4 separate regions of the Homo sapiens genome follow, and regions 1, 2 and 3 are each linked to region 4. Evidence: fine-mapped expression QTL. A gene starts in region 4. Each other region holds a variant in brackets. All regions are shown on one strand. Distances are between the middles of the regions.

Region 1 (8,104 bases), 20 kb before region 4:
GAAACTGGTCCCTGGTGCCAAAAAGGTTGGGGACTGCGGTATGGAGGGATTGGTAGAGTTAACTACCAATTTAAAAAATTCGCCAAACATGGAGTTGCAAAGAAATCAAATACTATCTATGGTTTTCATCCCTTCCTAAAAGAAAAGATAATTAGCTGGTGCACGTGTGTTAGCTCCTATCGTCAGATGGAAGCTGGTCCCTGAAATGCCAAGTGCTGCTCTGGATGCTTAAGAACTCATTGAGAGATGCATGCCCGGGGACAGGAAGTAGCCATGCAACTGTGAGGTGGCAGATCTGGGATTCAAGTCCTCAGGGGCCGGCTCCCCCATCTGTACTTTGCATCCCTAAGGCCAGTGGTCCTCAAACATCAGTAGGCACCAGTGCCACCTGCAGCACCCACCTGGAGCTCCAGTAGCCGGGGTGGGCCTGAGAATGGTCATTCCTCACCTGTCCCCAGGTGGTGCCAGTGCTGCTGGCCCCAGGCCACCCTTCAAGAACTGCTCCTCATGGGGGCTGAGCAGGGTGGATCTGCTTGTAATCCCAGCACCTTGGGAGGCCGAGGCTGGAGGATCTCTTGAGGCTAGGAGTTCAAGACCATCCTGGACAACACAGCGAGCCCTCATCTCTAAAAGAAAAAAATACACACATGCAAACATACATATGTGCATACACATGTGCAAACACACACACCTAATGCACATACACATACATGCATATATACATGCATACATACACATACATACACGTACATACACTTACATGCATACACGCCTGCATATACACATGCACGCACACATGCATGCATATACACATGCATGCATACACAGACATGCATACACACATGCATATACACATACATGCTACACATACACATGCATATGCATATACATGCATAAACATACACATGTATAAACTCATACATGTATACGCACATGCATGCACACATACATGCATACACAAATGCATGCACACATAGTTGTATACACATACATGCATACACGTTTACATGCATACACATACATGCATACACATACATACACATGCACATGCATATGCACATGTACATATGCATACATACACACATGCTTATACGCGTACACGTATACACATACATACGCACATGCATACACACCTACATGCACACGTACATGCATTCCACCACTCTCTGCTCTCCTATGCCCCAGATGGGCTTCTGCTTTATGAAAAACCTATTCACTTGTTCTGGTTTCTCTTTTTCCTTTGAAGATGTCAGGGAGCAAACCCATTCTGGGACCCATCACATGAGACCTTCGATTGGGGCTAGGACACCAGGTCTGGGGCTCCCCCACTTCCAGGGCTGTGTTCTCATCTGACAAGATGGTGACCTCCACTGTCTCCCTCCAGGAGGCCAAAAATGTGAGGAGGGGAATCCAGAGAGATGCTTGGTGAGGAATTTTCCGGAAGATGGCCAGTTCCCTCAGGCAGTGTTAGCACTTACTGAGGGTCCGGGGTGTCCAGACATGATTTTCCCTTTGTTTTTTTTTGGTTTTTTTTTTTTTTTTTTTTTTGAGATGGAGTTTCATTCTTGTTGCCTAGGATGGAGTAAATGGTGTGACTTGGCTGGCTGCAGCCTCCGCCTCCCAGGTTCAAGCAATTCTCCTGCCTCAGCCTCTGGAGTAGCTGGGATTCCAGGTGCCCGCCACCATGCCCGGATAATTTTTTGTATTTTTAGTAGAGATGGGGTTTCACCATGTTGGCCAGGCTGGTCTTGAACTCCTGACCTCAGATGATCCACTTGCCTTGGCCTCCCTAAATGCTAGGATTACAGGCGTGAGCCACCACGCCCAGCCCCGACACCATTTTCTGTATTGATCTATCAAATTTTTGTTGAGAGCTTTCTAGGTTCCAGGCAGCCACTGTTCTGATGCTTTACATCAACTCATTTAATTTCCCTCATGAGGTAAGAACTGTCATCCCCATTTTACAGGTGAAGAGACAGGCACAGAGAGGCTGAGTTATTTGCCTGAGGTCCCACAGCAAGTAACAGGCAAGGCCAGGATTCCAGGCCAGGCCAGGAGGCTCCCGGCTCTCTGTTGGCCCAGCCCTGGTCTTCTTAATGAGATCCCAGATCAAGGCTGGGACGAGGGGAGAGCTGTGCCTGGCACTGCTGCTTGCTTTCCAGGTGTAGTGGGTTAAAAGTGTCCCCAAAGAGATAAATCCACGTTCTAACCCCCCCAGAACCTGTGACAGTGACCTTATTTAGAAGATGGGTCTTTGCAGATGTCATTAAATTTAGGATCTGAGGATCTGGAAACGAGAACATGGGTGGACCCCAAATCCCATGTGAGGTGTCCCTGGAAGAGAGAGGCAGAGAGAGATTTTGGACACAGACACGGAGGCGAGGAGGCCCTGTGCAGATGGAGGTGGAGGCTGGAATCACACAGTTCCAAGCCAAGGAATGCCTGGAGCCACCAGAAGCTGGAAGAAGCAAGGAAGGGGCCTCCCTTCCATCTTCTGGAGGAAGCAGGGCCCTGCTGAAACCTTGACTTCAGACTTCTGGCCTCCAGAACTGTAAGAGAATCAAGTTCTATTGTTTTAAGCCACTGAGTTCATGACTTGTTGCTTGTGGCCTCGGGAAACTGACATCCTGGGTAAAACTCCTCCCCTCTCTAGGCCTGTGTCTCTTCACTTCTGTGCCCACCATGCAGCTCCTGGGTCCCCTGCTCACTGGTCCCTGACACCAGCTGGCCAGGGACCCCTCAGTACCTGTGGGGAGTGCGGTGGGCCGGCGGCCTTCCAGAACTGCATTGGGCAGGCCCCGCCAGGTTTATGCCTGGAGCGGCCTCCCTCGCCTGATGCACTGGGCTGGGATCAAGAGGCATGAGCTCTGCTGCAGACCCCACTGACCTTGGAGAAGACGTTGCCCTCTGGGCCTGTTTCTTCTGGGAGATGGGAGCCCTGTCACCTGCTAGGTTTGCTGGGAGGGTTCACAGGGTTCTTTAAACATGGCAGGGTCTCAGTCTGTTGTGGACGTCATTGTCATTGGTTTATTACCTGTCTGTCTGTCTGTCTATCTATCTAATCTATCTATCTATCTATCTATCTATCTATCTATCTAATCTATGGAGATGGGGTCTTGCTGTGTTGCCCAGGCTGGAATGCAGTGACGCAATCATGGTTCACTGCAGCCTTGACTGCCCAGGCTCAAGCAATTCTCCCACCCAGCCTCCCAAGTAGCTGGAACCACAGGCTCATGCCACCACACCCAACTAAGTTTGTTATTATTATTTGTATAGATGAGGTCTTGCTATGTTGTTAAAGCTGGTCTCAACTCCTGGGCTCAAGCAGTACCCCCACTTCGGCCTCCCAGAGTGCTGGGATTACAAACATGGTATGTTGAGCATTTAAAATTTCAAATTATTTTATTTTATTATTATTTTTTGAGCCAGAGTCTCGCTCTGTCACCCACGCTGGAGTGCAATGGCATGATCTCGGCTCACTGCAACCCCCCTGTTGTGGGTTTGAGCAATTTTCGCGCCTCAGCCTCCCAAGTAGCACCCACCACCATGCCCAGCTATTTTTTGTGTTTTTGGTAGAGATAGAGTTTTACCATGTTGGCCAGCCTGGTCTCAGACTCATGACCTCAAGGGATCCACCCGCCTTGGCCTCCCAAAGGGCTGGGATTACAGGTGTGAGCCACTGTGCCCGGCCTATTTTATTTTACTTTATTTTATTTACAGAGACAGAGTCTCACTATGTTGCCCAGGCTGATCTTGAACTCCCGGGCTCAAGCAGTCCTCCCTCCTTGGTCTTCCAAAATGCTGGGATTACACGTGTGAGCCACCATGCCAGGCCCATTGTTATTCTTTTAATGAGCTTTTTTCCTGAGCCCCTACTATGTGCTTGGCTGGACATGAAACCCTTCTCAAGGAAATAAGGTTTGTCTGATGCTAATAATGAACTTCATTTTAGTAATGAGGATTCTGAGGTCCAGAGAGGTTAAGACTTTTATGGAGGAGCACAAGCTGGCCCAGGACCTCCACACTTTAGTGCCCTGTAACTGCTGGGAGCTTCCTGGTTGGATGGGCAGGGGAGAGCTGGCGATTTGGCATGTTGGGACAGGGGGAAGAGCAGGCAGAAGGGTGTTCCAGGCCGAGGGCACACTCCAGTGAAATCCAGGAGTGTAGACTTTGATGC[C/T]GGGTAAGGCTGGGGCAGCAAGGGGCCCGGAAAGTGCCACTGGCTGCAGTCAAAGTGGCCTGAGCAAGGTGTTCTCTGTGTTTCTGAGGCTGACCTCTGTGAACTCAGAGAGAGAAAGAGAGAGAAGGGATATTGGTGTGCGCTTGTGTGCATGTGTGCACAACCATGCGGTCTGGCAGGCTTGTGGGACAGTGCCCATGTACAAGCAGCTCTCTTGTGTGTGCAGGGCTGCTTGGAGGCCATGGTCCTGGGCTCTTGGGTGTGTGTGAGTGTGTGTGTTTCCACTGGTGGAAAATGGGTGTATCTCTTGGCAGGAGCTGGGAATGTGAGTGGGTCTGAGGTCCAGGGAGAGCAAGCCTACGGTTGCAAGTGGGCAGACTACGTGAGAGGGGTCTGGGAGCCTTTGTGTCTGTGTGCATGCGTATGTGTGCCTGCGCCTCAGAGTGTATGCATGAGTGGATGAGTGTATGCACACCTGTGTATGCAGTCATGCACACACATGCATGTGTGTGTATGTGCGTGTATATATGCTTATGTGTATGGGAGTGAATGTGCCGCCATGTGTCTGCTTGTGTCTGCAATAGCCTGAGTGTGCATGCGTGTGAGTTTTGCTTTCACATTCAGTGCTAGTCAGAGGCTCCAATTCCTGTAAACCTCATGGTCTCATCTTCCAGCAGACATCCCACAGCAGTGGCAGTGGGCACCACAGCCTAGGCTTGATCTGACTTATGGCTTCCCCTTTTCAAGCCTCTGGTTGCAGGGTGTAGAGGGGATGTAGGTGAAGGCAGGACACCCGGCCCCCAGCTGGCCGCAGGCCCCACCATCCCTGGCATCTGCGGCATGAAGCCACCCATGGGAGTCTGAGGGAAGTCACATTACTGGGACTGGCCAGGGTAGAGCTGCCCTGGGAAATGTGGGTTCACTTTCATTCTACTGAAGGTGAAAATCAGATCACGCCTCTCCTCTGTCTCTCTGAAAACCCTCCAAAGAGTCCCTGTTGCATTTCAAGCGAAACATGAGTCTCTACCCAGTATCTCAGATGTCACCAGGGCCCTGCTGGCCAGAAAGACTTGGGAAGGAACCACCCATGGTGTATCCACTGTGTCACTCTTGGCTTCGAGTCCCTTCCTGTAAAAGCTGAGTAGGAAGTCCTTGCAGGGGGCAGGGATGATTGCGTGCTTGTGGCCGTTCCTCTGTCCAGTGGGTAGACACTGGGAGGCTCTGGAGACTTGGCCATGAAGGAGACAGCCCTCCCGGTGGGCCAGAGCCTTTTCCCTTTCCATATAGCCATATGCGATAGTAAAGAGCGGTTGCTTCTCCAGGCTTTAAAAAATTTTTTATTTTATATTTTATTTTTTGAGACAGGGTCTTGCTGTGTTGCCCAGGTGGAGTGCAGTGGTGCAATCACCACTTACTGCAGCTTCAACCTCTCAGGCTCAAGTGATCCTCCCACCTCAGCCTCCAGAGTAGCTGGGACCACAGGTGTGCACCACCACACCTGGCTAATTTTTTAATTTTTTCTAGAAACAGGGTTTCCCTGTGTTGCCCAGGCTGGTCTCGAATTCCTGAGCTCAAGTAATCCTCCCACCTCAGCCTCCCAAAGTGCTGGGATTACAGGCGTGGGCCCCCGTGCCCAGTCCCTCATGCCATTTCTGTGCCACTAGGAAGTAACACTGGCTAACCAGGTTGACATTTCTCTTGTTCCCAGAGTGAAACGAATGAGTGCTTCTTCTTTAATCCTGCAACTACCCCACATGGTCAGCACTTATATTTTCACTCTTACTTGGCAGATGAAGAAATTGAGTCCTGTTAAGGAACGTGCTTAGGATCACATGCTAGGAGGTGGTCGTGCTGGAATTCAAATCCAGGCAGGTGCTAGCTTGAGAGCCACTGCTCTATAAAGCCCTTCTCAGGCCTCCACTCAGGCCAAGGGAGGAGGAAGGGCCCTCAGGCAGGAGCAGCGTGAGCAAAGGTCTGGAGCTGGGACTGAGCATGGCATGTCAGGAGAGAGAGACAAGAGCTCTGTGGCCATGGGGAGCAGCGTGAGGTCAAAATGGAGAGGCAAGAGGAGGGAGGGGTGTGGAGGTCCCTGAATGCCAGCATGAACGCTCCGGGCCTTCTGTGGGGTGGGCGGCACGGGAGAAAGGGAGTCTAGCCAGCTCCGGCTGGGTGCCCTGGCTCAAACCATCCTTGCCTCAGGCAAGGACACCTGCATGGACCCAGTCGCTCAAGTCCCAAACCAAGTCCATCCTTGAGTTCTGTCTTTGTCTCCCCTCATCGGGCCGTGGGGAGTAGAGTGAAACCGCAGCTGCAGCCTCCTGGCTAGTCTCTCCACTCCTCTGCCCCCACAGCCCAGTCTCCACGCGGCGGCCAGGGGCGTCTACTGAAAACGAAAATCAGGTCATGTCTCTCTCTTTCTCTTTCTCTCTCTCTTTTTTTTTTTTTGAGATGGAATCTCCCTCTGTTGCGCAGGCTGGAGTGCAACCACCTCCCGGGCTCAAGTGATTCTCCTGCCCCAGCCTCTCAAGTAGATGGGTTTATAGGCCACCCACTACCACGCCCGGCTAATTTTTGTATTTTTGGTAGAGACGGGGTTTTGACATGTTGGCCAGGCTGGTTTCCTGACCTCAAGTGATCCTCCCACTTTGGCATCCTAAAGTGCTGAGATTACAGATGTGAGCCACTGTGCCCAGCCTCCTCTCTCTGTCTCTCCCCACCCCTCCCCTCAAAAATGCGCATTCCTGGTACATTTAAAGCAAAATCCAAATTCCTTTAAGTGGCCTGTGAGTCTCTACCTGATCTTGCCTCACCGACCTCTTGACTGCATCACTGACTGCTCCCCCATCACTGCGCACCCATACTGGCCTTTCTGTTCCTCATACACACAGGGTCGCTCCCGCTGCAGGGCCTTAGCATTCGCCATTCCCTCTGGTGGGAGTGGCCCTTCCCCAGCCCACCAGCCCCTTCTGTCATTCAGGTCTCAGCTGAGGGAGCCTGTGCAGATAAGCCCCTCTCCCCACCCCTCCTGGTTTATTTTCTTCATCTGCATGTGCTTAGCACCCGAAATTGTCTCTTGCTCTCTCCCCATCCTTCACCAGATTATAAACTCCATAAAAGCAGGGTCTTTTGTTGGTTTTGTTCACCGCTGCATCCCAGGCATTCAGTGAGCACTTGTTGAGTGAAGAAATCAGACTCAGTCTTCCCCTCTGTAAAATGGGACCACATCAAACCTCCTGGCAGGGTAGTGGTGTGGCTCAGAGGTAACGTTTGTACACAGTTGGACTTCTTCCCTACTGGCCCAAGGACTTACCTGGCCACCCCTCCTGGAACCCAGCCTCCTCCAGCTCCCCCAAGCCCTCTGCCTTGGGAGCGGACACCTTAGCAGAAGGGCCGTCCTCCAGACCCTTTGCAGCCAGGCCTCTCTGCTCACAGATCCCTGAGGACATCCGGAGGTTGGTGCCCAGAGCCTAGCCCCAGGCTCATGCAAATTCTGTCTTCCAGTTCAGCAGCTGTGGCCTCCTTCACTCGGCCTTTTAAAAGAAATTCTTGGGCTGACTCACACTTCCTTTGTCTCCAGCTGGGTTCACTCAAGTGTCGCTGTTTTGCAAGGCTGAGGTTTGAGTCCCTCAGAAGCAATCTCTGATGCAGGGGCGCTGTGTGCTTCATTGAACTTCGAATGAAGGTCAGGCCCCCCAGAAAACCTCATACCAGGACAGTTGGGAAACTACCCCTCACTGGTGGTCAGGGCATTCTGGGTTGGAGAAACTGCTTTGGGGCTTTGGCAGGTGTTCATTTTGTCCATCCCCCTGCCTCCCACCTAACCCCATCCCAAACTCACTCAAAAAAATGCCCCTACTGCCCTGGGGGGTGCATTTCAACGTCTCATGTACCCCGCTTTTCCTTCCTTCCCTGTGAAATCAGGCGTTT
Region 2 (8,104 bases), 510 kb before region 4:
GAATCATGACCTGTTTTAAGGGCCGTGAAGGGGTGGCCTGCCCCTCCACACCTGTGGGTATTTCTAGTCGGATGGGACAAGAGACTGAGAAAAGAAATAAGACACAGAGACAAAGTATAGAGAAATAACAGTGGGCCCAGGGGACCCGCGCTCAGCATACCAAGGACCTGCACCGGGCACCGGCACCGGTCTCTGAGTTCCCTCAGTTTTTATCGATTATTATCTTCATTATTTCAGCAAAAAGGAATGCAGTAGGAGGGCAGGGTGATAATAAGGAGAAGATCAGCAATAAACATGTGAGCAATAGAATCTATGTCATAATGAAGTTCAAGGGAAGGTACTATGACTGGACGTGCACGTAAGCCAGATTTATGTTTCTCTCCACCCAAACATCTCAGTGGAGTAAAGAATAACAAGGCAGCATTGCTGCAAACATGTCTCGCCTCCCACCATAGGGCGGTATTTCTCTCATCTCAGAAATGAACAAATGTACAATCAGGTTTTATACCGAGACATTCGGTTCCCAGGGGCAGGCAGGAGACAGTGGCCTTCCTCTATCTCAGCTGCTAGAGGCTTTCCTCTCTTACTAGTCCACCTCAGCACAGACCCTTTACGGGTGTCGGGCTGGGGGACAGTCAGGTCTTTCTCATCCCACGAGACCGTATTTCAGACTATCACATGGGGAGAAACCTTGGACAATACCCAGCTTTCAAGGGCAGAGGTCCCTGTGGCTTTCCATAGTGCATTGTGCCCCTGGTTTATTGAGACTAGAGAATGGCAACAACTTTTACCAAGTATACTGCTTGTAAACGTTTTGTTAACAAGGCAGGTCCTGCACAGCCCTAGATCCCTTAAACCTTGATTTCATACAACACATGTTTTTGTGAGCTCCAGGTTGGGTCAAAGTGGCTGGGGCAAAGTGGCTGGGGCAAAGCTACAAATTAACAACATCTCAGCAAAGCAATTGTTTAAAGTACAGGTCTTTTTCAAAATGGAGTCTCTTATGTCTTTCCTTTCTACATAGACACAGTAACAGTCTGATCTCTCTTTCTTTTCCCTACAGGGCTGTTGGATAGAATGCAGGAGCTAATTTGTTTTTTTTCTTTTTTCTTTTAGATGGGGGTCTCACTGTCACCCAGGCTGGAGTGCAGTGCTGCAATCATAGGTCTCTACAGCCTCCAATTCCTGGGCTCAGGCAATCCTCCTGCCTTAGCCTCCCTAGTAGCTGGGACTACAGGTGCACACCCCACACCCAGCTAATTTTTTATTTCTCATAGAGACAAGGTCTTGCTATGCAGCCCAGGGTGGTCTGGAATAGACTCAAGTGATCCTCCTGCCTCAGCCTCCCAAAGTGCTAGGAGTACAGGCATGAGCCCCTGGGTCTGGCTAGGAGTTAATGTTTTATCACATACTCAGCACATTGCATGCACATAGTAAGTGTTTGCTAAATAAATTATGTCAAGCCACCTTTATTTTCACTCCAGGAGGTAAAGTGCATGGCATGATACCCATTTTACAGATCAGGTGATTGAGGCTCAGAGAGGTTTTGAAGCAGGTGCATACAGCAAACCAGTGGTAGACCCATGAGTAGATATCAGGTCTCCACCTGCTCCCTGCTCATAGCTTTTCCCATCACACAAAACTGGGGTGCACAGTCCCTGCCAAACCTTTAACCCAAGGTTGCAAAGTGCCTGCCCAAGGGTCAACTCTGGGCTCCAGACATGTTTGGGTTGGACCTGCATAGTTAAAAAAAAAAATAGGCAGCGTTCATGGAGTTAATGGCCAGTATTGGAAAATTGGGGCCAAGTGTAGTAGCTCACGCCAGTAATTCCAGCACTTTGGGAGGCCAAGGCAGGAGGATCTCTTGAAGCCAGTTCAAGACCAGCCTGGGCAACAAAGCGAGACCTCATATCTATTTATAAAAAATAAAAATACTAACCAGGCGGGGCATGGTGGCCTGTGCCTGCAGTCCCTGCTACTTGGGAGGCTGTGGTGGGATCGCTTGAGCCCTGGAGTTCAAGCCTGCAGTGAGCTGTGATCACATCACTGCTCTCCAGCCTGGGTGATAGAGTGAGACCCTGTCTCTTAAAAAGAAAGGAAAGAAAAGAAAAGAAAAATCAGATGTCACTTTTTTTTTGAAGTCTGTACTTCTGTTTTTTCTTAAGGAAGCTCAGGTGACATGGAGCCTGAATTCCCTGTGGTGGGAGCTGAGCGGTGCTATCCCCCCTTAGATGGGGTTGCAGAGTCGAGCTCACCACCCCCAGACACCAGTGTGCTCACTTCATTCTCTGCCACTGGCGAGTTTGCCATTGCTCCTGAAAACCTACTGTTGTAACCTGGGCATGGTGGCTCATGCCTGTAATCCCAGCACTTTGGGAGGCCAAGACACACAGATTATCTGAGGTCAGGAGTTTGAGACCAGCCTGGCCAACATGGTAAAACCCTGTCTCTACTAAAAATATAAAAATTAGCTGGTTGTGGTGGCACATGCCTGTAATCCCAGCTACTGAGGAGGCTGAGGCAGCAGAATCACTTGAACTTGGGAGGCAGAGGTTGCAGTGAGCTGAGATTGTGCCATTGCCCTCCAGCTTGGGCGACAAAGCGAGACTCTGTTTCAAAAACAAACAACAACGACAAAAAAAAAAAACCCGCTGTCAGGTGGGATTCCCCAGAAGCAGACCATACCCTGCATGAGGGTGCATGAGCACCTTAGGGATTAGGCAGGGCTCTGGGGAGGGTCGGAGAGATGGGCTGAGAGGCAGGGAGGCCACACAGGGGTGTGACAGCAGACAAAGGCCCTCAAAGGTGTATCAAAAAGTACCAAAAACTGAGTGGCTTAAAAATCAGAAATTCATTGTCTCCCAGTTCTGGAGCCTGGAAGTCTGAGATTAATGTGTCTACAGAGCCCTGCTCCCTCTGCAGGCGCTAGGGAAGGATCTGTCCCCAGCATCTCTCCTAGTTTCTGGTATTTTCTAGGCTGTGGCTGCGTAATCCAATCTTCACATGATGTTCTCTCTGTATGCGTGTCTGTGTCCAAATTTCCCCTTTTTATAAGGACACCGGTCATATTGGATTAGGGATCCACCCTACTCCAGTGTGACCTCATCTTTCTAATGATGTCTGCAATGACTCTATCCCCAAGTAGGGTCACATGTTAAGGTACAGGAAGTTAGGACTTCAATATAGGAATTTTGAGATGAAGGACATAGTCAACCCTTAACAGAAGGTAACTGTGGCTCACCCCACAGGGGGTTCTCAGAGTCTCCAGTGGGAGGGGGGAGCTGGGGTATTTATACTCTCCTGTCCATCTTGCCCTTGCCCCATTGGCTCTAGGAAAACACACAGGCAAAGCAGGTTCCAACATCATGAGGAGTGTCTCTAGCTAAGAGGTGCAGGGGCTGCTGTTGGAAGTGAAAGCTCACCAGGACCTGGTGGGAATGAAGATGGTGACAGGATCCGAGGGACTGTGGGCTCCTGCCAACCACCATCATGGTGACACAGAGGAAAGAGTCTTTACTCCACCTCTGTCATCCACTACCTTGGTGGGAATTGACCAGTAGGGTGGCCCTAAATGAGTCACTGGCCTCTCTGCCTTACTTTCTCCACATACAGTCCACACCAGCTGGGACCAGAGCTGCTAGGAAAAAGAATGGATGATGCCCACTCACCCCCATCCATGTGCACCCCAACCCAGCTGGCGCTTGGGGAGTGTCAGCAGGTGGAGGTGGTAGAGCCCTCATACCTATCAGCATCAACTCACTTACAGAGGGACTGAGGAGCCCCTGGGAGAAACAGGACCCCCAAATCAGATAGCCCTCCCCATGAGTGAGCTCAGGATATTCAAACACAGGTCTTGAAATGCGGCACCTGGATTCTTGGCCAAGGTACCTCGAGGACTGGATTTTCATTTCTCAGCCTCACTTGGCCTTTATACCTCCGAGACGCTGCATTCACCATTCATAATTTTAGCTCAGTTCACTTGGAAAAACCCAACCACAAAGCAGAGAACTTGAGAAAGGCCCCAGTCTGCATTTGGTGGGTCCAGGCATGGCCACTTCTACCCAAAGGGTGGTGTCAAGGCCCCTCCCTGTGTTCTGCCACAGCCAGGAGACTTTCATCCAACTGTAGCCAGGGGACTTCCGCTCATGGGAGTCACCAAACACCCTTCTTTTATTTTTTATTTTTTTAGAGACAGAGCCTCACTCTGTTATCCAGGCTGGAGTGCAGTGGCACAATCACAGCTCACTGCAGCCTCGACCTCCTGGGCTCATGCCATCCTCCTGCCTTAGCCTCCCGAGTGGCTGGGACAACACAGGTGCATGCCACCAAGCCCAGCTAATTAAAAAGTTTTTTTTTTGTTTTTTTTTTTTAGAAACAGGGTCTTGCTATGCTGCCCAGGCTGGTCTCAAACTCCTGGACTCAAGTGATCCTCCCACCTTGGCCTCCCAAAATGCTGAGACTATAGGCATGAGCCACTGTGCACAGCTGAAATGCCCCTCTGAAGCATATGGGGTGGGACTTCTTGGCCTCATTTTCCAGATAAGTGGCTGAATCTCAGAGAAGAAAAGGGACTGGCCAAGGCCACCCAGGGGGGTGAGACCATCTCTCCTCTTTCATCTTGTGCCCTTCCCTACAATCCCACCTCCAGACCACATGCAAAGTGAGCTTGTTGCCCAGCAGTAACTGGATCC[C/T]GTAGACGCCTGCTCAAAACTTTCTTGAGGCTTCCCTGCCTACACAGTTGAATCTCAGTGCCACGTGGCCTGGCCCTGGCGACTTCTCCCCCACTCTCAGCCCCTGCCACTCTATCTTCCTCTCCAGCCCGGGCCACACCACCCACCGTCCTTGGTAGCTGCTCTTGGAATGCACCAAAGTTGACTTGGGGACTATGCCCTCGCCGTCTCCCTTGCCTGGCACACCCTCCACACGCCTTGGTGACTATGCCCTTGCCATCTCCCTTACCTGGAACACTCTCCACACGCTTTGGGGACTATGCCCTCGCCATCACCCTTGCCTGGCATGCCCTCCACATGCCCTGGCATGCTCATCACACGGCCAGCTCTTCCATGTCCTTCAGGTGGCAGCTCAGAGGTCACTTTCTGGAGGAGCCACGGTTGGTGCCACACTAGGACCTTATGACACTCACTCTCTGGCAAACACCTGGGACTCTGCCTGGGGGCTGTCTCTGTCTTCTAGAAGCCTCAAGACCCAACAGTCAAGGCCAAAGGTCTGGAGTGGTGAAGCCCCCAGATGCTGCACCCAACCATTGACTTTCAGGAGCTGATGTACCCCCAATCATCCAACACATCACTCCATCAAGTTCCTTCCCATCTTCATCTGGAAGTATCCAGGTGACTTGCTTGTTGACTATGTGTTTCCCCAACTCGAATGTAAGCTTCTTGAAAACAGGTTCATGATCACCCTCTTCCCCCAGTCCATGTCCCCAGCCCCAGGACAGCTCCTGACTGATAGCAGGTCCCCTGTACATAATTGATGAATGAATGAATGAATGAATGAATGAATGAGTGGGTGATGGAATAAGTCAATGAACCCCAATCCAGTGCTCCTTCTCCCCTCTTCCTCAGCTCTCACTGGAGCTAGAAAACAAAAATCTACCTTCAACCATCTCCTGACTCAGCCCCATCCCCAAGGAGGGGCTCACACCCTGGTCCCTGGGAGATTTTTTTGTTTTTGTTTTTGTTTTTATAAGATCTACACCCAGCCTCAACCCTGAACTCTGAATGAATTCGTCTGGCAGGGGGACCCAGGCAGCAGCGTTCTTAAAAAACTGCCCAGGAGGTGCCAATGTGCAGCCAGGGTGGAGAACCACTGGTTTAGAATTTGGGGAGTAGGGGAGGACCCAGACAGAATCCAAGGTTCTAGGGTGGCCAACTCTCCTAGTTTCCCCAGACCAAGGGGATTCTCAGGAGGCAGGCTCTGCAGTGCTAAAACTGAGATAGTCCAAGCAAACCAGGATGAGTGGGTCACTCTACGTGTTCCCCATGCCACCTGGATAACAGACCAGCCAGCCACACCGCTGCCCTGGCCACTTCTAGAGGTCCAAGTCTCTTGAGATCCCCACTGCCTTGTGGAGAGGGCCATGAATCCTGCTCTAGACCTTGAACATCAGAGGAGGGGAAAGGGCCACAGACGGACAGCATGGGGTGAGATTGGAACCACGGCTCAGGCAACTGATGCTGATGAAGATCAGGCCATCCTTCCTCCTTTCCTCACCCCCACCCCAACCTAGGCAGGTGTGATTCTAACAGAGGGAGCTGGGCTTTCCCATGTGGCTTGTGGGCAGTGCCTATTCATTGTGAGAGTCTTTTGGGGTCAGGCTGGATTTGTTTCCGCTTCATTATCCCCTACCCAGGCCTGGCACATATTAGGTGCTCAGTAAACAGAGGCACGATACTAAAGGCATGCAAGAAATTGATCACCATGTCAGCTGGGAACGACCTAGCTTTTTCACCCACTTTCCTCACTGCACACACCCAGTGTCTGCTATAGTGTCAGACACAGTGGAGATGCTCAATGCCTGTTTGTTGACTGAACAAAAGAAAACATTGACAGCTTTTCCAAACAGGCTTCTGTCTCACTCCAGCCTCTTGCCCATTACTCTGTTGGGGATTTGGGGGCCTTTTCCTCACACCCCTTGGTCTGAGTATTCATCCAACCACATGAATAAAATTAAACTTTTATCTGTTCTGTTATGTAGGGCAAAACTACCAGCTGACCCTAATATCTTCTTACATCAGATGAGGATTTTTGGCTGGCTCATGGTCCTATCAGCTAAAGATCACCCTTCTTGGCCTCCCCTGCAAGGAGTATGGTAATGTAAAGTAAAGCTAATAAAGTAAGTTGTGCCACTTTGGGATTATATTTTCCCTCTGATAGAATGCAGTTGTGATGGTAGGAGCTGGAGCAGCCATGTTGAATCATGAGGTGGGAGCCATGAATAAAGATTGGGAAACCAAGAAAGAGAGGGAAGCTGAGACCCTGCCCTATAGAGCCCCCTTATCTGTTCTGAATAGTTGATACTTGGACTGTTACCCAAGAAAGAAATACATTTGTCTCTGCCTGGCCTTTGTCACAGCAGCCATACCTATATCTTACCTTATTTTGAATCATGCAAAAAATGGGTAGATGGATATTTGTCCACTGTGGTGTCGTGTTTGAGATCTTTTGGCTTAAGACACTGGCTCCATGACTCATGCATGGGGAAGCCCCCTAAAGAGATAAGCACTTACCCAGGGTACAGAGGAGTAGAAACTAAGCATGAAGAGAGGCTCTCAGGACTGCCAGTGGGAAAAGGGTGCTATGGCTTGGATATTTGTTCCCTACAAACCTCATGTTGAAATTTGATCCCCAATGTTGGAGGTGGGGCCAAATGGGAGGTGTTTAGGGCATGGGGCATGGGGATGGATCTCTCCCTCCCATGGGGTGAGTTCTTGTTCTATTAGTTTCCAAGAGAGCTGGTTGTTAAAAAGAGCCTGGCACCTGCCCCTACTCTTGCTTCTTCTCTGTCCATGTGATCTCTGCACACGTGGACTTCTCTTCACCTCCCACCACAAGTGGAAGCAGTCTGAGGCCCTCACTGGATGCCCAGTCTTGAACTTCCAGCCAGCAGAATCATGAGCCAAATAAACCTCTTTTCTTTGTAAATTACCCAGCATCAGTTATTCCTTTATAGCAACATGAAATGGACCAAGACAAAGGGACTTCAGTATTAAGATACTAAGCATAAAAAATGGCAGTTTCCATAGGTGCCCCAGTGTAAGAGCTACATGGGCAGACACTCCAAAACACAAGTGCTACTTTGCACTGTGCTGCTTCTCCCAGGGCCCAGAGAGATTAAGCAACTTGACCAAGGTCCCACTGGTAAGTGGCAGAGCTAGGACTTAAGTCCAGCTGTGATATGATTTGGATTTGTGTCCCACCCAAATTTCATGTTGAACTGTAATCCCCAATGTTGGAGGTGGGGCTTGGTGGGAGGTGATTGGATCAGGGGGGCAGTTTCTCGTGAATGGGTGCTCATGAACAGCATCCCCTGCGTGCTGTCCTTCTGATAGTGAGTGAGTGAGTTATTGCAAGATCTGTTTGTTTA
Region 3 (8,104 bases), 54 kb before region 4:
GTTAAACCCCGTCTCTACTAAAAATACAAAAAATTAGCCAGGTGCGGTGGCGGGCGCCTGTAGTCCCAGCTACTCGGGAGGCTGAGGCAGGAGAATGGCGTGAACCCGGGAGGCGGAGCTTGCAGTGAGCCGAGATCGCACCACTGCACTCCAGCCTGGGCGACAGAGCGAGACTCTGTCTCAAAAGGGAAAAAAAAAAAAGTTGCAGAGTTAGTAAGGGGATTTCCATATACCTCTCACCCAGTCTCCCAGTCTCCCCCATTGTTAACATTTTACATCACTGGGGCACATTTGTCACAATTAAAACACCAACTTTGGCACATTAGTACTTACCAAGCAAGCTCTAGATTTTATTTGAATTTCACCAGCTTTTCTACTAATGCTCATTTTCTGTTCCAAGATCCAGTTCAGGGTGCCATACCCACTTTCTGCTACTATTAACATCTTATGTGAGGATAGTGCATTTCACAATTCTTTAACCAGTAGTGGTGCATTATTATTAACCAAAGTCTATACTTTCCTCAGATTGCTTTAGTTTTTCCTCAATGTTTTCCTGTTCCAGGATCCCGTCTCCCTTTAGGCTCCTCTGGGCTGTGACATTCCTGTCTTTGATCATGTTGACAGTTGTTTTGTTTTGTTTTGTTTGAGATGGAGTTTTGTTCTTGTTGCCCAGGCTGGAGTGCAGTGGCACAATCTTGGCTCACTGCAACCTCCGCCTCCCAGGTTCAAGCGATTCTCCTACGTCAGCCTCCCCAGTAGCTGGGATTACAGGCATGCGCCACCACGCCCAGCTAATTTTGTATTTTTAGTAGAGTTGGGGTTTCTCCATGTTGGCCAGGCTGGTTTCGAACTCCTGACCTCAGGTGATCCACTCGCCTCGGCCTCCCAAAGTTCTGGGATTACAGGCATGAGCCACTGCACCCAGCCGGTCACACTGACAATTTTAAGGAGTACTTGTCAGATATTTTGTGAATATTCCCTCTTCCTCTATTTTTGGAATAGTTTGATTGAGTAGGATTGGTAGTTTTTTTTTAGATGTTTGGTAGAATTCAGCAGTAAAGCCACCAGGTTCTGGGCTTTTCTTTCCTGGGAGACTTTTTATTAAGGCTTCGATCTCATTACTTGTTATTGGTCTGTTCACATTTTGGATTTCTTCATGATTCAATTTTAGTAGGTTGTCTGTGTCCATGAATTGATCCATTTCTCCAGATTTTCCAGTTTATTGGCATATAGTTGCTCATAGTAGCCACACTAATGGTGCTTTGAATTTCTGCAGTATCTGTTGTAATGCCTTCTTTTTCTTTTCTTTTCTTTTTTTTTTTTTTTTTTGAGACGGAGTCTCGCTTTGTAGCCCAGGGTGGAGTGCAGTGGCGTGATCTCAGCTCACTGCAAGCTCCACCTCCCGGGTTCATGCCATTCTCCTGCCTCAGCCTCCCGAGTAGCTGGGACTACAGGCACCCGCCACCACGCCCGGCTAATTTTTTGTATTTTTAGTAGAGATGGGGTTTCACTGTGTTAGCCAGGACGATCTTGATCTCCTGACCTCGTGATCTGCCCACCTCGGCCTCCCAAAGCGCTGGGATTACAGGCGTGAGCCACCGCGCCTGGCCTTTTTCATCTCTGATTTTATATCTTTAGGTCTTCTCTCTTTTTTTCTTAGTTAGTCTGGCTAAAGGTTTGACAATTTTATCTTTTCAAAAAACCAACTTTTTGTTTCGTTGATCTTTTGTATTATTTTGTTTCAATTTCATTAATTTCTGCTTTGATCTTTATTTCTTATTTTCTACTAATTTTGGATTTGGATTGCCCTTTTCTAGTTCTTTAGGATGCATTGTTAGGTTGTTGATTTGGTCAGGTATTTTGTAGAGTGTCACTCAATTGAGTTGTTTTCTTTTTTTTGAAATGGAGTCCCGCTTTGTCGCCTAGGCTAGAATGCAATGGCATGATCTCAGCTCACTGCAACCTCCCCCTCCCAGGTTCAGGTGATTCTCCTGCCTCAGCCTCCTGAGTAGCTTAGATTACAGGCAAGCACCACCATGCCTGGCTAATTTTTGTATTTTTAGTAGAGATGGGGTTTTACCATGTTGGCCAGGCTGGTCTTAAACTCCTGACTTTGTGATCTGCCTACCTCGGCCTCCAAAGTGTTGGGATTATAGGCATGAGCCGCTGTCCTTGGCTTCCATTGGGATTTGACTGATACTTTTCTCATGATTAGACTGGGGTTATGTGTTCTGGGAGGAAGAGCCAGGAGGTGAGTGCCCTTTTCCTCACGTCCTACAAAGGGGACGTGCTCTCAGGAGGACTAACTTGATGCCTGGCTGAGGCAGTGCCTGTCAGGTTTCTTTATAGCAGAGCTACTGTTTTCCCCTGCATTTGATACTGTGCTCTTTGGAAGGAGGTCACTCTGTGCAGCCCATGCCTAAGGAATGGGGAGTTAAGCTCCACCTCCTTCAGGGCAGGGCATCTTCATCACTTATTGGAATTTTCTACCCTGGAGATTTGTCTCTTCTCCATTTATTTATTCATTCATTTATATCAGTATGGATCCATGGATCCTGTATACTTTGGGTGTAATCCAATTCTACTGTATTTTGTTGCTCAAATTGTTCCAGCATTGGCTACTGGATGCCTTTCAGTTATCTCCCATGTCCCTGTGACACACTCCATCATTGTGAGATTTTGAGCACTTCCTTAACTTTCTGGCACCACAAGATGCTCCAGGCTCATCTTGTCTGTTTCCTGTCTTAGACCTAGAATCAGCTGTTTCTGCAAGGAGCCCTGGTTCCTTTCATTGGTGAATGGTATTAGAAACCAAGATCAGGGTGCAAGATGTGCTCAGGGCTGTAGGGTGCTGTTGCTTCTTGGCCGTCTTAGCGGACAGAGCAAGGAAATCTGTGTGTGTACTAACCTGTATGTACACAAATCTATATTTCTATAGGTAACCATCTATGGTACTGTTTTAGCTAAACCTGTTCATGCTAACATCTCCAACTCTAATCCATGGTCATCACATGGATCATTCTAAATACCTCTCCTTGCTCATCTGTAACAGTGGGAAGCCTGGCTCCTACCATCCTCCATCCATTTACTTAGT[T/C]GTTCCCTTTCACTCTGCACGTATGGTGGCTTTAGAATTGTTAACCTTTCTAAAGGCTGGGTATGGTGCCTCACACCTGTAGTCCCAGCACTTTGAGAGGCTCAAGCAGGAGGATCACTTGAGCCCAGGAGTTCGAGACCAGCCTGGGCAACATGGTGAAACCCTATCTCTACAAAAAATACAAAAATTAGGTGGGCGTGGTGGCGCAGGCTTGTAGTCCCAGCTACTCGGGACTGAGGCAAGAGGATTGCTTAATATGAGAAGTTGAGGCTGCAGTGAGCCATGATCATGCCACTGCACTCCAGCCTGGGTGACAGAGCTAGACCCTGTCCCCCCAACCAAAACAAAAAACAACAACAAAAAACCCCACCTCACCCCTGATACCTTTCCAGTCATTCATTTATTTATTGAATGCCCTCTATGCTGGGCACTGTTTTCAACACCATGAACAAAACAAAGATCCCCGCCCTCGTGGAGTTATGTTCTAGTGCAGGAGATGAGCAAAACAATAAGAATGATAGATGGATAAACGATACTTTATATTGAAAGGAACACAGAAAAAGTAGGGCACAGTGAGAACCCTTGGGCCTGATGGAGGTAACTGGGACAAGTGGCAATTCAGGGTGCTCAGGGCAGGCCTTGTTGAGAAGGTGACATTTAAGCAGATTTTGAAGGCAGTGAGGGAGTTAGTCATGAGGACATCAGGGAAGAGTGCTCCAGGCAAGGGGAACATGATGGGGTGGGGACAAGGGGGGAACAAGGGGAACCCTGGGGTGGGGATGCACAGCCCTTCTGCTGTGCCCAGGGAACAGCAAGGCCAGCATGGCTGGAGCAGAGAGAGGTGGGGGTTGGTAGGAGATGAAGTCACAGAGGTGGGAGGGGGGCACCACATTATAGGTGGCCTTGTCAGCCTCCCTGAGGATTCGACTTTTACACCAAATGAAATGGGGATCGTAAGAGTGACACTCTTTGTCTTAAGGACCCCTGTGCTCCTGTGCTGAGAAGAATGTAGGGGCAGATGTGGAGGCAGGGAGGCTGTTGCTGTCACACAGGCCCAAGGCTGTGGAGGCTCACACCAGGGTGGTAGAGGAGGATGGTGAGGAGTGGTCGGAATCTGGTTGTGTGTTAAAGATGGGGCCAGCAGGACTCACCAGCAGCCTGGATGAGGGGAGCGATAGGGACAGAAGAGTTAAGGCTGGTTTCGAGACTTTGGGCTCAAGCATCTCAAAGGATAGCATTGCCACCAACTCTAATGTATGGAGAAGGCTTGGGAGGAGGGTCCAGAATTCAGACATCTCAGTAGAGGTGTCCAGTAAGTAGGCAGCTGAGTATCTGAGTGTGACATTTAGCCTGGAAGTGATATATTTGGGCATTGTCAGTGTTTACAATCAGGAGACTGGCCAGGATCACTGATTTAGTTTTTGCTGCTGCTGTAACAAAGTACCATAAACTTTGTAACTTAAAACAGCACGAGTTCATTATGGTTTTTCGCCCCCAACTCTGTCACCCAGGCTGGAATGCAGTGGCATGATCACGGCTCATTGCACCCTTTACTTCCTAGGCTCAAGTGATCCTACCTCAGCCTGCTTGAGTAGCTGGAATGGAAGCCTGGCTCCGTGTCCAGCTACTTTTTTTCTTACTTTTTGTAGAGAGAGGTCTCCCTGTGTTGCCTAGGCTGGTCTCAAATTCCTAGCCTCAAGCGATCCTCCCGCCTCGGCCTCTCCAAGTGCTAGGATTACTGGTATGAGCTGCTATGCCTGTCCTATTATCTCACAGTTCTGCATGTCAGAATTTCAAAATGGTCTTAAGGCGCTAAAATCAAAGTACCAGCAGGATGACATTCCTTTCCAGAGCCTCTGGGGGAGAATCTGTTCTCCGCCTTTTGTTTTTCCTCATGTTTCTAGAGGCCTCCTCCTTGGCTCATGGCCCCTTCCCTTGTCTTCAAAGCCAGCAGTATAGCCTCTTCGAATCTCTCTCTGACTCTGGCTCTCCTGCCTCTGTCTTTCCCTTATGAGGTTTCTTGTGATTACACTGGACCTACCCGGGTAATTCAGGACAATCTCCCCATCTCAAGGTCCTTCATTTAATCATATCTGGATAGTCCCTTTTGCTACATAAGGCAGCTTATTGACAGGTTCCAGGGATTCACACATGAGCATCTTTGGGGCCATTATTTTGCCTACCTCAAGCACGAAGGGGATGATGGAGAGGAAGAGAGTGCCCAGGACCAAGCATTAAGAAGTCAGGAGCTGGCTGGGTGCAGTGGCTCATGCCTGTAATCCCAGCACTTTGGGAAGCTCATTTGGGCGGATCACTTGAGGTCAGGAGTTCAAGACCAGCCTGGCCAACATGGTGAAACCGCGTCTCTATTAAAAATACAGAAATTAGCCAGGCATGGTGGTGCATACCTGTAGTCCCAGCTACTCAGGAGGCTGAGGCATGAGACTCGCTTGAACCCAGGAGGCAGAAGTTGCAGTGAGCTGAAATCACGCACAGAACTCCAGCCTGGATGACAGAGTGAAACTCCATCTCAAAAAAAGAAAAAAAAAAATTCAAGAACTCAAGAGTTTGAGACCAGCCTGGCCAACATGGCAAGACCCCATCTCTACAGAAAATACAGAAATTAGCCAGGTGTGGTGGTGCACACTGTAGTCCCAGCTACTCAGGAGGCTGAGTCAGGGAATCACTTGAGCCCAGGAGATTGAGGCTGCAGTGAGCTGAGGTCGTGCCACTGCACTCCATCCTGGGTGACAGAGCAAGACCCTGTATCCAAAAAAAAAAAAAAAAAAAATCAGGAGCTGAGGAGGAGCAGCTAGGAAGGTAGGAGGAACCAAGAGACCTGGGTCCAGGAAGCCCGGTGGACAAAGGGCACTGGGGAGGGGGTAAGCAGCAGCTGTGTCAATCACATCAGAGGTCGACTCAGAGGTCACCCATGGACATGGCAATGTGGCAGTTACTGGCGACCTTCAGAAGAACAGTTTGTGTGTAGCAGTGGGGGCCAGGCAAACCTGGTGGGAGTGGGATTTATTTATTTGATTTTAATTATTATTATTATTTTTTTTTTTTTTGAGATGGAGTCTCGCTCTTCGCCCAGGCTGGAGTGCAGTGGTGCAATCTTGGCTGACTGCAACCTCCGCCTCCCGGGTTCAAGTGATTCACCTGCCTCAGCCTCCAGAGTAGCTGCAACTACAGGTGCCTGCCACCACGCCTGGCTAATTTTTATATTTTTAGTAGAGACAGGGTTTCACCATGTTGGCCAGGCTGGTCTCCAACTCCTGACCTCAGTGATCCACCTTCTTTGGCCTCCCAAAGTGCTGGGATTACAGGCGTGAGCCACCGTGCCAAGCCTGGGGGTGGGGTTTAGAAGGAACACTGGCCACTCTTTCAAGGACTTTCACTGCCAAAGAGAACAGAAAAACGGGAATGTGGCTGGCAGCGTAACTGGGCCGGGAGAATATTTGGTTTAGTTGGGGTTTGGTTTCCAGCGGGACAGCAGAGCAGGATTGTTTGCTGGTGGGAATGTGCAACAACAGAGAATGACAGATGAGGTGGTTTTGTGGCTCCCAAGCACGATGGTCTGGTGTTCACGAGGGTGTGTAAGATGCACCTCCCTCAAACCTTGTTACAAGGTTGGCATGTTACCCGTCTGATGTGAAAAAAAAAAGAAAAATAGACGAGACTGAGGAGGGAGTTGTTTGATGAATAAATGGATCACACCACACTTCTGCAACTTTTGTTCACTTAACCACATATCTCAGCAACATCTCCATGGGTAGTATTGCTCCGAGCAGTTCTGCTTGATTCTGCTTGCATAAATCTATCCTGTTGATCAGGGTCAGTAAATAGAAAGATAATGCAAGCCAGGCAGGTAAGGTGGCTCATGCCTGTAATCCCAGTGCTGTGAAAGGCCAGGGCAGGAGGATTGCTTGAGGCTAGGAATTTGAGACCAGCCTGGGCAAAATAGTGAGATCCCGTCTCTACCCTCCTCCCCCGACCAAAAAAAGCCAGGTGTGGTGTGATGCTCCTGCAGTCCCAGCTACTTGGGAGGCTGAGGTGAGAGGATCACTTCAGCCCAGGAGTTCAAGGATGCAATGAGTTATAATTGCACCACTGCACTCCAGCCTGGGCAACAGAGTGAGACTATATCTCAAGAAAGAAAGAGAAAGAGTAGAGAAAGAAAGAAATATAATGCAAGAAACAAATGTGAGCTCTATGTCATTTAAATGGTGTTTTAATGTTTTATTTAACTCAGTATATCCAAAATATCATCACTTCAAGTGGTCAATATAGAATGGTTGGGCTACTTTACATACTTCTCTTCATACCTAGTCTTCGAAATCCAGGGTGCATTTCATCCTTACAGTGCACCTCAGTTCAAACAAGCCACGTTTTAAGTCAGTGGCCACATGTGACTCGAGGCTCTATTGTGGTCAGCACAGCCCAAAAAAAACTCACATAGCTTTGGGAGGCCGAGGCAGGTGGATCACAAGGTCAGGCGTTCAAGACCAACCTGGCCAATATGGTGAAACCCTGTCTCTACTAAAAATACAAAAATGAGCTGGGCGTGGTGGTGGGCGCCTGCAGTTCCAGCAACTCAGGAGGCTGAGGCGGGAGAATCACTTGAACCCAGGAGGTGGAGGTTGCAGTGAGCTGAAATTGTGCCACTGCACTCCAGCCTGGGTGATAGAGCAAGACTCTGTCTCAAAAAAAAAAAGAAAAGAAAAAGAAAAGGATCTCACATAGATGAGCAGAGGCTACATACGAAACAGATGATCGCAGTGCTGCTGGTATAACCACAAAGCTAGAGCCAGCCTCACTGTACCCTGGCATGGGGCTGACAATGTATATATTGTGGCTTTTTGCTTTTAAAAGCATTAAAAGGAAACATTCATTTGGGTTTAATTCGTTTATTTAAATTTTTTTTTTTTTTTTTTTTGAGACAGGGTCTCGCTCTGCTGCCCAGGCTGGAGTGCAGTGGCGCCATCTCAGCTGCAACGTCTGCCTCCGAGT
Region 4 (8,092 bases):
GGGAGGCTGGCACAGGGGGTTGCTTCAGGCCTGAGTGTGAGGGTGATGGATTGTGGTGTGGGGGAGGGGGGATAATCCTCCCTAGAGGGGAGGCTTACCCAACATGTGTCAACAGACCCCACTTGTCTGCTCATGACTGTAATTTAAAATGCTGATTTTGCAACTCTTGGAGCTGGTGGAACACTACAGCCCCTTGGCTATTTTGCAGGAGATTTAAGGACCTGCACGTTAGTGAACATGCAGGCTGCCTTGGTGCCTGAAGCAGAGGTCACGTTCTAGAGAGAGTTTGCAGATTGGAAGCCCACGGGCCAGAGTCAGTCCATGGATGACTTTCTGGGGCACATGGTTTGTTTTTGTTCCTTTGTTTCAGAATTGAATTGTTTGCCAGCATTTTTTTTTTAAACATGGAAATTATACATGAAAATGTCTTGAGCTGGGCGCGGTGGCTCACGCCCGTAATCCCAGCACTTTGGGAGGCCAAGGCAGGTGGATCATCTGAGGTAGGGAGTTCGAGACTAGCCTGGCCAACATGGTGAAACCCCATCTCTACTAAAAATACACAAAATTGGCCGGGCGTGGTGGCGGGCACCTGTAATCCCAGCTACTTGTAAGGCTGAGGCAGGAGAATCACTTAAACCTGGGAGGTGGAAGTTGTGGTGAGTTGAGATCGTGCCATTGCACTACAGCCTGGGCAACAGAGTTAGACTCCATCTAAAACAAAACAAAAACAAACGAAAAAAAGAAAATGTCTTGAAAAATCAGATCTAGCAACAATGGGCCCACAGTCCTGCACGACAACCACCGGCTGAGTGTGATGGACCCCTGTTGCCGGGACATCAGAAGGCCAGTTTGCCCCTGCTACACCAGGGTTACCTGTCTGTCTGCTGCTGACAACTTAGTTTGAGAACCCAGGCTTTACTGGTAAGATAGACACAGACACAACTATTTATGGCTCAAAACAGAGGGCAGTGAGTATTGTAGCTTAGGACAGTGGTTCTCCATAGAGGTGATTTAGTACCCTAGGGGACAGTGGCAATGTCTGAAGACATATTTTGGTTGTTGCAACTTGAGGAGGGTGCCATGGCATCTCGTGGGTGGAAAGCAGGGGTACTGCTCCATATCCTGCAGTGCACACGACAGCCCCCACGACAAAGATTATCCAGCCCCAGTGTCAGTAGGGCTGAGGTTGGGAAACTGTGGATTAGGGGCACCACCAAACTGGTCTGGAAGGAAGAGGTTAATTCCAGTGGTGGGGCTCAACAAAGGCTCTGTGAAGAGAAGAGGTCTTGCTGCTGAGCAGGCACTTGATGACTAAGCCAGGTTTCAACTGAGAGCGACTGAGGGGGAGGCATGTCAGGCAGAGAACAAACAACACAAGCAAAGGTCTAGAGGCACCTTTGATGGGTGGAGGTGGGTGAGAGTGTGAACAGTGAGATGGAGCCTGTAGTTCAAGATACATGAAGTTTGGGGTCAGGTGGATTTGGGTTTGAGTTCTGACTCTGCCACTCACTAGCCATGTGGCTTCAGGCTTGTCATTGGCTTGAACCTCAGTTTCATCATCTGTAAAATGGGGATAAGACATGAGGTTATGTAGAGCCAGACTCATCTATCCCCAGTCCTCCATTTCTACTCTGTGTCCCAGCCATCCTTAACTACTGGCAGTTTGCTACATGCTTCTTGCTTTGTCTCCCCTGTCTGGCCCCTCCATGTGCAGTTCCCTCTGCCTGGAATGCTCACATGCCAGATGTGTGGATTACACCATCAAGGTGTTATAAACCCGGTGCTGACATGCTAAGACTTGTGTTTTGAAAAGATCACTCTGCCAGCAACATGGTGTTGGGCTTGTGGGAGCAGGTGCAGGGAATCTGGAGGCCAAGGGAATGATGGGGGATTCCCAGGCTCATACAAGAAGCCTGGGGGCTTCTCCCTTCACGCTAACTCCCTTCTCCGTCACTTCTCTGTCCTTAAGGTACCTCGGGGGAAGGTCAGTGAGGACCCACCAGGCATGAACGGGTTGGATTCTCTCTTGGTTAATGTTCCTGCTCCTTTCTCAGCCTAGGAGCCTGGTTACTTCATAGGTCAGGGTTGAGGTGTTGTATTAGTCTGTTCTCACACTGCTATAAAGAACTGTCCAAGACTGGGTAATTTATAAAGGAAAGAGGTTTAATTAACTCCAGTTCCGCAGGGCTGGGAGGCCTCAGGAAACTTACAATCATGGCAGAAAGGGAAGCAAACGTCCTTCTTTATGTGGCAGCAGGAAGAAGTAGTGCCGAGCAAAGGGGGAAAAGCACCTTATAAAACCATCAGATCTTGTGAGAACTCACTCACTATCACGAGAACAGCATGGGAGTATCCGCCCCCATGATTCAATTACCTACCACGGGGTCCTTCCCACGATATGTGGGGATTATGGGAAGTACAATTCAACATGAGATTTGGGTGGGGACACAGCCAAACCATATTAGGTGTAGAGGCCAAAACCTCATAGAGGCTACTGAGAGTCTATGGGCCAGCCCTCTAGCTTCCTTAAGCCTCAGTTTCCTCACCTGTGTGGAACAGTCTTTTCAGGGTCTGTGGGGGTACATGGGATACTTCCTACAAAGTTCTTACAATAGGACCTGGCTCAATTTTATAAAAATGAAGCTCTTGGCCGGGTGCGGTGGCTGACGCCTGTAATCCCAGCACTTTGGGAGGCTGAGCGGGCAGATCACGAGGTCAGGAGTTTGAGACTAGCCTGGCCAGTATGACGAAACCCCGTCTCTACTAAAAAATACAAAAATTAGCCAGGCGGGTGGCGTGTACCTGTAGTCCCAGCTACTCAGGAGGCTGAGGCAGGAGAATCACTTGAACCTGGGAGGCGGAGGTTGCAGTGAGCTGAGATGGCACAACTGCACTCCTGCCTGGGTGACACAGCGAGACTCCGTCTCAAAAAAAAAAAAAAAAAAAAATCAAGCTCTTGCTGAATACTCTCTGAATGCCTGGTACTGCAGGAGGCCCTGGGAACTCAAAGTTTCTCTTAAGAACTGACCTTGACTTTAAGGATTGCCTGATTTAGGATCTGTGGACTTTGCTGACTGGGGACATCCAATTTTTAGGGAGAGATTCCTGGGAATTTTATTTGAAGGATGCACAAAAAGATTTAGCTTTTACGGGTGGATCACGAGGTCAGGAGATCGAGACCATCCTGGCTAACACGGTGAAACCTCGTCTCTACTAAAACAAAGTACAAAAAATTAGCTGGGCGTGGTGGCAGGCACCTGTAGTCTCAGCTACTCGGGAGGCTGAGGCAGGAGAATGGCGGGAACCTGGGAGGCGGAGCTTGTAGTGAGCCCAGATGGCGCCACTGCACTCCAGCCTGGGTGACAGAGTGAGACTCCGTCTCAAAAAAATAAATAAATAAATAAATAAAAAAGATTTATCTTTTAAGTAGGTCCACAGTGGATATATTTATAAAGTGAAAAATTGGAAATAGCCTTAATGTCCAACTGTAGGATATTGGTTTAATATGTGATAAGACAAATCGAGTATTATGCAGTCATTCAAGAGGAAGCAGATGGATATTTGCTGATACAGAAAGATGTTCATTATTAAGTGAAAACAATATACAAAACACTATTTGTATATCAGTAATAGGCCAGGCATGGTGGCTCACGCCTGTAATCCCAGCACTTTGGGAGGCCAAGGAGGCAGGATTGCGTGATCCCAGGAGTTCCAGACCACCTTGGGCAACATGGTAAGACCCTGTCTCTACAAAAAATACAAAAATTAGCTGGACGTGGTGGTGCACGCCTGTAGTCCGAGATACTTGGGAGGCTGAGGTAGGAGAATCACCTATGCCCGGGAGGTGAACGTTGTAGTGAGCCGTCACTGTGCCACTGCACTCCATCCTGGGCAACAGAGTGAGACCCTGTCTCAAAAAAAATACACACACATATTTTAAAGCCTAAAGGCTAATATACCCCAAAATTAACAGTGGGTATCTATAAGCGGCTTTTACAATTATTTTCTTGTTCTACATTTTTCCCCTATTTTTTTTACAATAAATGTGCATTTCTTGTCTGAAAAATAGCAATATATTTTATTAACCTTAAAATTATTTGATGCTATTAAAATATAACTGAAAATAATAATAAAAGAAAAGGCAAGTTTGCCAGCTCTCCCCGTCTCCCTCCCCAGCCTTATCTCCTGACTGGATTCTTGCTCACTCCCAATAAACACGGACTCTTAATTCGTTTCAGTATTTACTAACCTCAAAACAAGGCAATGTAAAGATGAATAATCATACTCTGTAGGTGATCTGCATCCACGCCAAATTTTGAGATGCGTTGAAAGAGGAAGTTCTTTACCTCTCTGCCTTCAATTATTTATTCTCGTTTAACCCATTTCCTCCGTTCATTCCTAACTTGAGGGCGTTTATTTACTTTTATCTACGCATGCGCACTCCTGGCTGCTAGAGAGGGCCTCTTCGCCCGGCGGTCCCGCCTTCTGACGTCGACCATTGGCCGGCTCTGCCAGCGCGCTCCTGATTGGTGGCTGAGGGCCGGGCCCCGCTGCTTCTCAAAGTTGGCGGGAAAGCGGAGGCGGGGCGGAAGGGTGCGGCGAGGCGGAATGGCGGCGGCTGCGGACTCGTTCTCAGGCGGCCCCGCGGGGGTGCGGCTTCCGAGGTCGCCGCCACTCAAGGTGCTGGCGGAGCAGCTGCGGCGCGACGCGGAGGGCGGCCCGGGCGCGTGGCGGCTGTCACGGGCGGCGGCGGGCCGCGGGCCGCTGGACCTGGCGGCCGTGTGGATGCAGGGCAGGGTAGTGATGGCGGACCGCGGCGAGGCTCGGCTGAGGGACCCGAGCGGGGACTTCTCGGTCCGCGGCCTGGAGCGGGTGCCGCGCGGGCGGCCCTGTCTAGTCCCAGGTAATGCCCGGGCCTTACCGGGCGCCCTCTTCCCTGCTGCCCGCCGAGAAGTTGCCGAGGCCAGATTCGATCTTGTTGTTGACACTCGAACGGGGGCGGGGCGGGTCTGGCCCTCCTCCGGGCCTCTGCCCCTGCGGGTCCCCGCTTGGGTACCCTTGCTCCGGTCCCTCCTTGGTGAAGTTGATCTGATGATAAGCATCACCTGCCGTCCCTTTTACAAATACAGATTCCTGGGACTCTCCCACCCCTAGTGGGAATCTTCTGGGGAGGGACTCCGGCACCTTCGTTTGTCACAAGCCCCCTCTCCCAGTTGATATCCTTGTTTTGGGAAATACTGTCCTGGGAAACTTCTGCTCATCCTTAACGTCTCAGCTCAAATGTGCCTTTCTCAGGGAAGTCCTCCCTAGCCCCTAGGAACGGGAGACCCTCCTGTACTTCTCCTTAATTGAACTGTCTTGGGCTGTAGCTCACTCATGTTTGCCTCCTCTCTTTTTTTTTTTTTTTTTTTTTTGAGACGGAGTCTCACTCTGTCGCCCAGGATGGGGTGCAGTGGCGCGACCTCAGCTTACTGCAGCCTCCACCTCCCGAATTCAAGCGATTCTCATGCTTCAGCCTCCCGAGTAGCTGGGATTACAGGCATGTGCCACCACACCCGGCTAATTTTTGTATTTTTTAGCAGAGACTGGGTTTTGCCATGTTGGCCAGGCTGGTCTCGAACTCCTGGCCTCAAGTGATCTGCTCATCTCGGCCTCCCAAAGTGCTGGGATTACAGACATGAGCCGCTGCGCCCTGCCTGCTTCCTCTCTTAAACCACTGATGCTCAAACTTGAGCCAGCATCAGTCTCTCCTGGAGGGCTTGGTAAAGCTGGGATGGCTGGGGCTCCACCCTCAGGGTTTGTGAGTCAGGAGGTCCAGGTGGGGCTGGAAATTTGCATTTCTAACCAGCTCCCAGGTGATGCTGATGCTGCTGGTCTGGGGACCATACTTTCGACTTTTTAAATGTTTTATTTATTTGAGATAGGGGACTCACCGTGTTGCCCAGGCTGGCCCTGAGCTCAAGCAATCCTCCTGCGTCAGCCTCCTTGGGTAGCTGGGACTACAGGCCTGTACCACCACGCCTGGTTTGGGGGCCATACTTTGAGAACCACTGGGCCAGCCCAAGCTACTGGAGGGCCAGAGCTGTGTGGTCCTGACAACTGTATCCTCAGCATCTGGCCCAGTTCCTGACACATAAGTGCTCCAAGAACCAATAGTCTTGAGTGATAGGCAATGGGCATCCATCTCACTTGTTCCCTGGGATGTCAGTTGAGCACGTGTTGTACATCAGCCCCTCATGTGCAGTGTTGGGCTGCAGCCGAGACCTAGATAGAGTCTGCTGGGAGACAGGCAGTGAGCAAGTGTCGCAGAGGATCGCTGATCTTTGGGGAGCCATGAGGATGTGCAAGGTGCTGAGTGGCCCGGGGAGGCTTCTAGAGGATGTGAGGTCTAAGCTGAGGAGCTCTGAGGCTCCATGGGCCTTCCCTCACCTCAGCTCCCTCTCCTGGGAAATCAGGCCAAGATCACTTCATTCCTAAGGGCCCTTCCTGCTCAGTCTTGGAGTCTAACTAGAGGCAGATAGGGCTGTGGTCTGGCCTGAGCTGCTGTGGACTCGGAAAGGCTTAGGTCGAATTTCTGGTTCCACCCCTTCCCAACTGAGCTGCCTGGAGCACTCTTGTTAACTTTTCTGGACTTGTACTATTTTGTAAAAAGGAGCTAATCATTCCTGCGTGTTGTGTGGATTCAATAAGTAAACAACTGCCTTAGTACTGCACCTGGCTCACAGTGAGGATGCAAAATATCAGGACTCGTTTACTGCCACATGCTCCTGTTCCGTCTTCCCACTGCCTTACCCATCAGCCTTCCCTCTGTCTGCCTGCCCTCAGCCGCAGCGTTGGTCTAGGACAGGGTCAGCAAACTACAGGCCTCCTCTTTTCATGTGTCCTGCGAACTAAAAATGCTTTTAAAATTTTTATGTATTACTATTATTATTTTTGAGACAGAATCTCGCTCTGTCTCTCAGGCTGGAGTACAGTGACGCAGTCATGGCTTGCTGCAACCTCCACCTCCTGGGTTCAAGCGATTCTCATGCCTCAGCCTCCCGAGTAGCTGGGATTACAGGTGTGCACCACCACACCCGGCTAATTTTTGTAGTTCTAGTAGAGATGGGGTTTCAACATGTTGGCTAGACTGGTTGGTCTGGAGCTCCTGGCCACCTTGGCCTCCCAAAGTGCTGGGACTGCAGGTGTGAGTCATTGCACCTGGCAGGATTTCACATTTTTAAATGGTTGAAAAGAAAATCGTGATATGTGAAAAGTATATGAAATTCAAGCATCAGTGTTCATAAGTTAAGTTTTATTGGAATACATTGGTAATTTACAGAATGTCTCGGGCCGCTGTCCCACCCCAGCTAGAATTTTATCTGGGACAGAGACCCTATGGCGGGAAAAGCCCAAAATATTTGTCTCGCCCTTTACAGAAAAAGTTTGCCAACCCTTGGCCTTAGCCTTGGCCCAGCAAGTAACCCATGCTGCTTGGTGTGTTGGTTTGCAGGCAAAGCACCTTGCAGGCAGGCTGGGGCAGTCTCCTATCTGGTCTCAGCCCTGGCATAAGCCTGGCATCTAGTAAATAAGTGTTTGAACCCATGGGCATTGGTGAACCTGTCTGACATACCCACTGGCCTGAATGCCAGCTGGCAGGGGCCATGTCATTTCTTCTTGTTAATTAATACTGAGTCCAGCTTGACAAAATTGAGTCACTGCCATCAGGGAGGCAGGGAGGTAAGCGGGCCACTAAAACACAAAGTAACATTGCAGGCAAGAGTGAGGTGGCGCAGAGGAGGGACAGCTGATCTAGGTTTGAGGGCTCAGGGAAGGCTTCCTGGAAGAGGCAGCCCTGAAGGATGCATTGGAGTTATCTGTAAGGACCAACCCTCCTGGGTTGCCTGGGACTGAGAGGGTCCTGGGACGTGGGACTTTCAGTGTTAAAACTGGGACACTTGGGCACCCTCTGTCTGTGTGCAGTGGCAGGAGATTGTGCAGCTCCATGGAGCAGCCTGTGCAAAGGCTTGAAGGGGATAGAGCCGCGTGCCTTTGGGGAGCCTGGGGCAGTGGTGGAAGGTAGGAGGGCTCTATCCTGATGAGCCTCATTGGC

Which allele goes with the higher level. Positions count from the first base shown, and alleles are read on the strand shown. Sizes are in standard deviations (SD) of each study's normalised expression. Not every link is listed here.
As copies of T replace C in region 3, the expression in iPS cells of the gene that starts at base 4,596 in region 4 goes down (large effect, 0.79 SD a copy in HipSci).

The links.
Region 1: its variant is fine-mapped to the expression of RMI2 in blood mononuclear cells (TOPMed, PIP above 0.99). The same link has a PIP of 0.9 or more in sun-exposed skin.
Region 2: its variant is fine-mapped to the expression of RMI2 in substantia nigra (GTEx, PIP above 0.99).
Region 3: its variant is fine-mapped to the expression of RMI2 in iPS cells (HipSci, PIP 0.91).

Annotation. Positions count from the first base shown.
Region 1 is chr16:11,320,984-11,329,087 of GRCh38, forward strand. All of the region lies in intron 1 of LOC105371082 (a long non-coding RNA gene), which reads left to right. Among named protein-coding and RNA genes, the nearest start is that of MIR548H2, 19 kb to the left of the region's middle. RefSeq lists enhancers at 1-529, 4,876-4,925, 6,363-6,422, 6,513-6,582, 6,643-6,702 and 2 more. The variant C/T (reference allele first, on the strand shown) is at 4,178.
Region 2 is chr16:10,829,424-10,837,527 of GRCh38, forward strand. No RefSeq gene overlaps it. Among named protein-coding and RNA genes, the nearest start is that of TVP23A, 15 kb to the left of the region's middle. RefSeq lists an enhancer at 4,778-4,907. The variant C/T (reference allele first, on the strand shown) is at 4,692.
Region 3 is chr16:11,286,568-11,294,671 of GRCh38, forward strand. All of the region lies in intron 1 of LOC105371082 (a long non-coding RNA gene), which reads left to right. It overlaps LOC124903805 (small nucleolar RNA U13), which reads left to right and starts at 6,643; the gene lies at 6,643-6,746. RefSeq lists enhancers at 1-40, 41-541, 89-238. The variant T/C (reference allele first, on the strand shown) is at 3,095.
Region 4 is chr16:11,340,864-11,348,955 of GRCh38, forward strand. RMI2 (RecQ mediated genome instability 2) reads left to right here and starts at 4,596. Exons shown (of 2, transcript NM_152308.3): 1 at 4,596-4,903. The coding sequence starts at 4,609. All of the region lies in intron 1 of LOC105371082 (a long non-coding RNA gene), which reads left to right. It overlaps LOC105371083 (a long non-coding RNA gene), which reads right to left and starts at 4,349. Exons shown (of 2, transcript NR_135174.1): 1 at 4,250-4,349; 2 at 946-1,560. RefSeq lists silencers at 4,665-4,824, 4,845-4,924.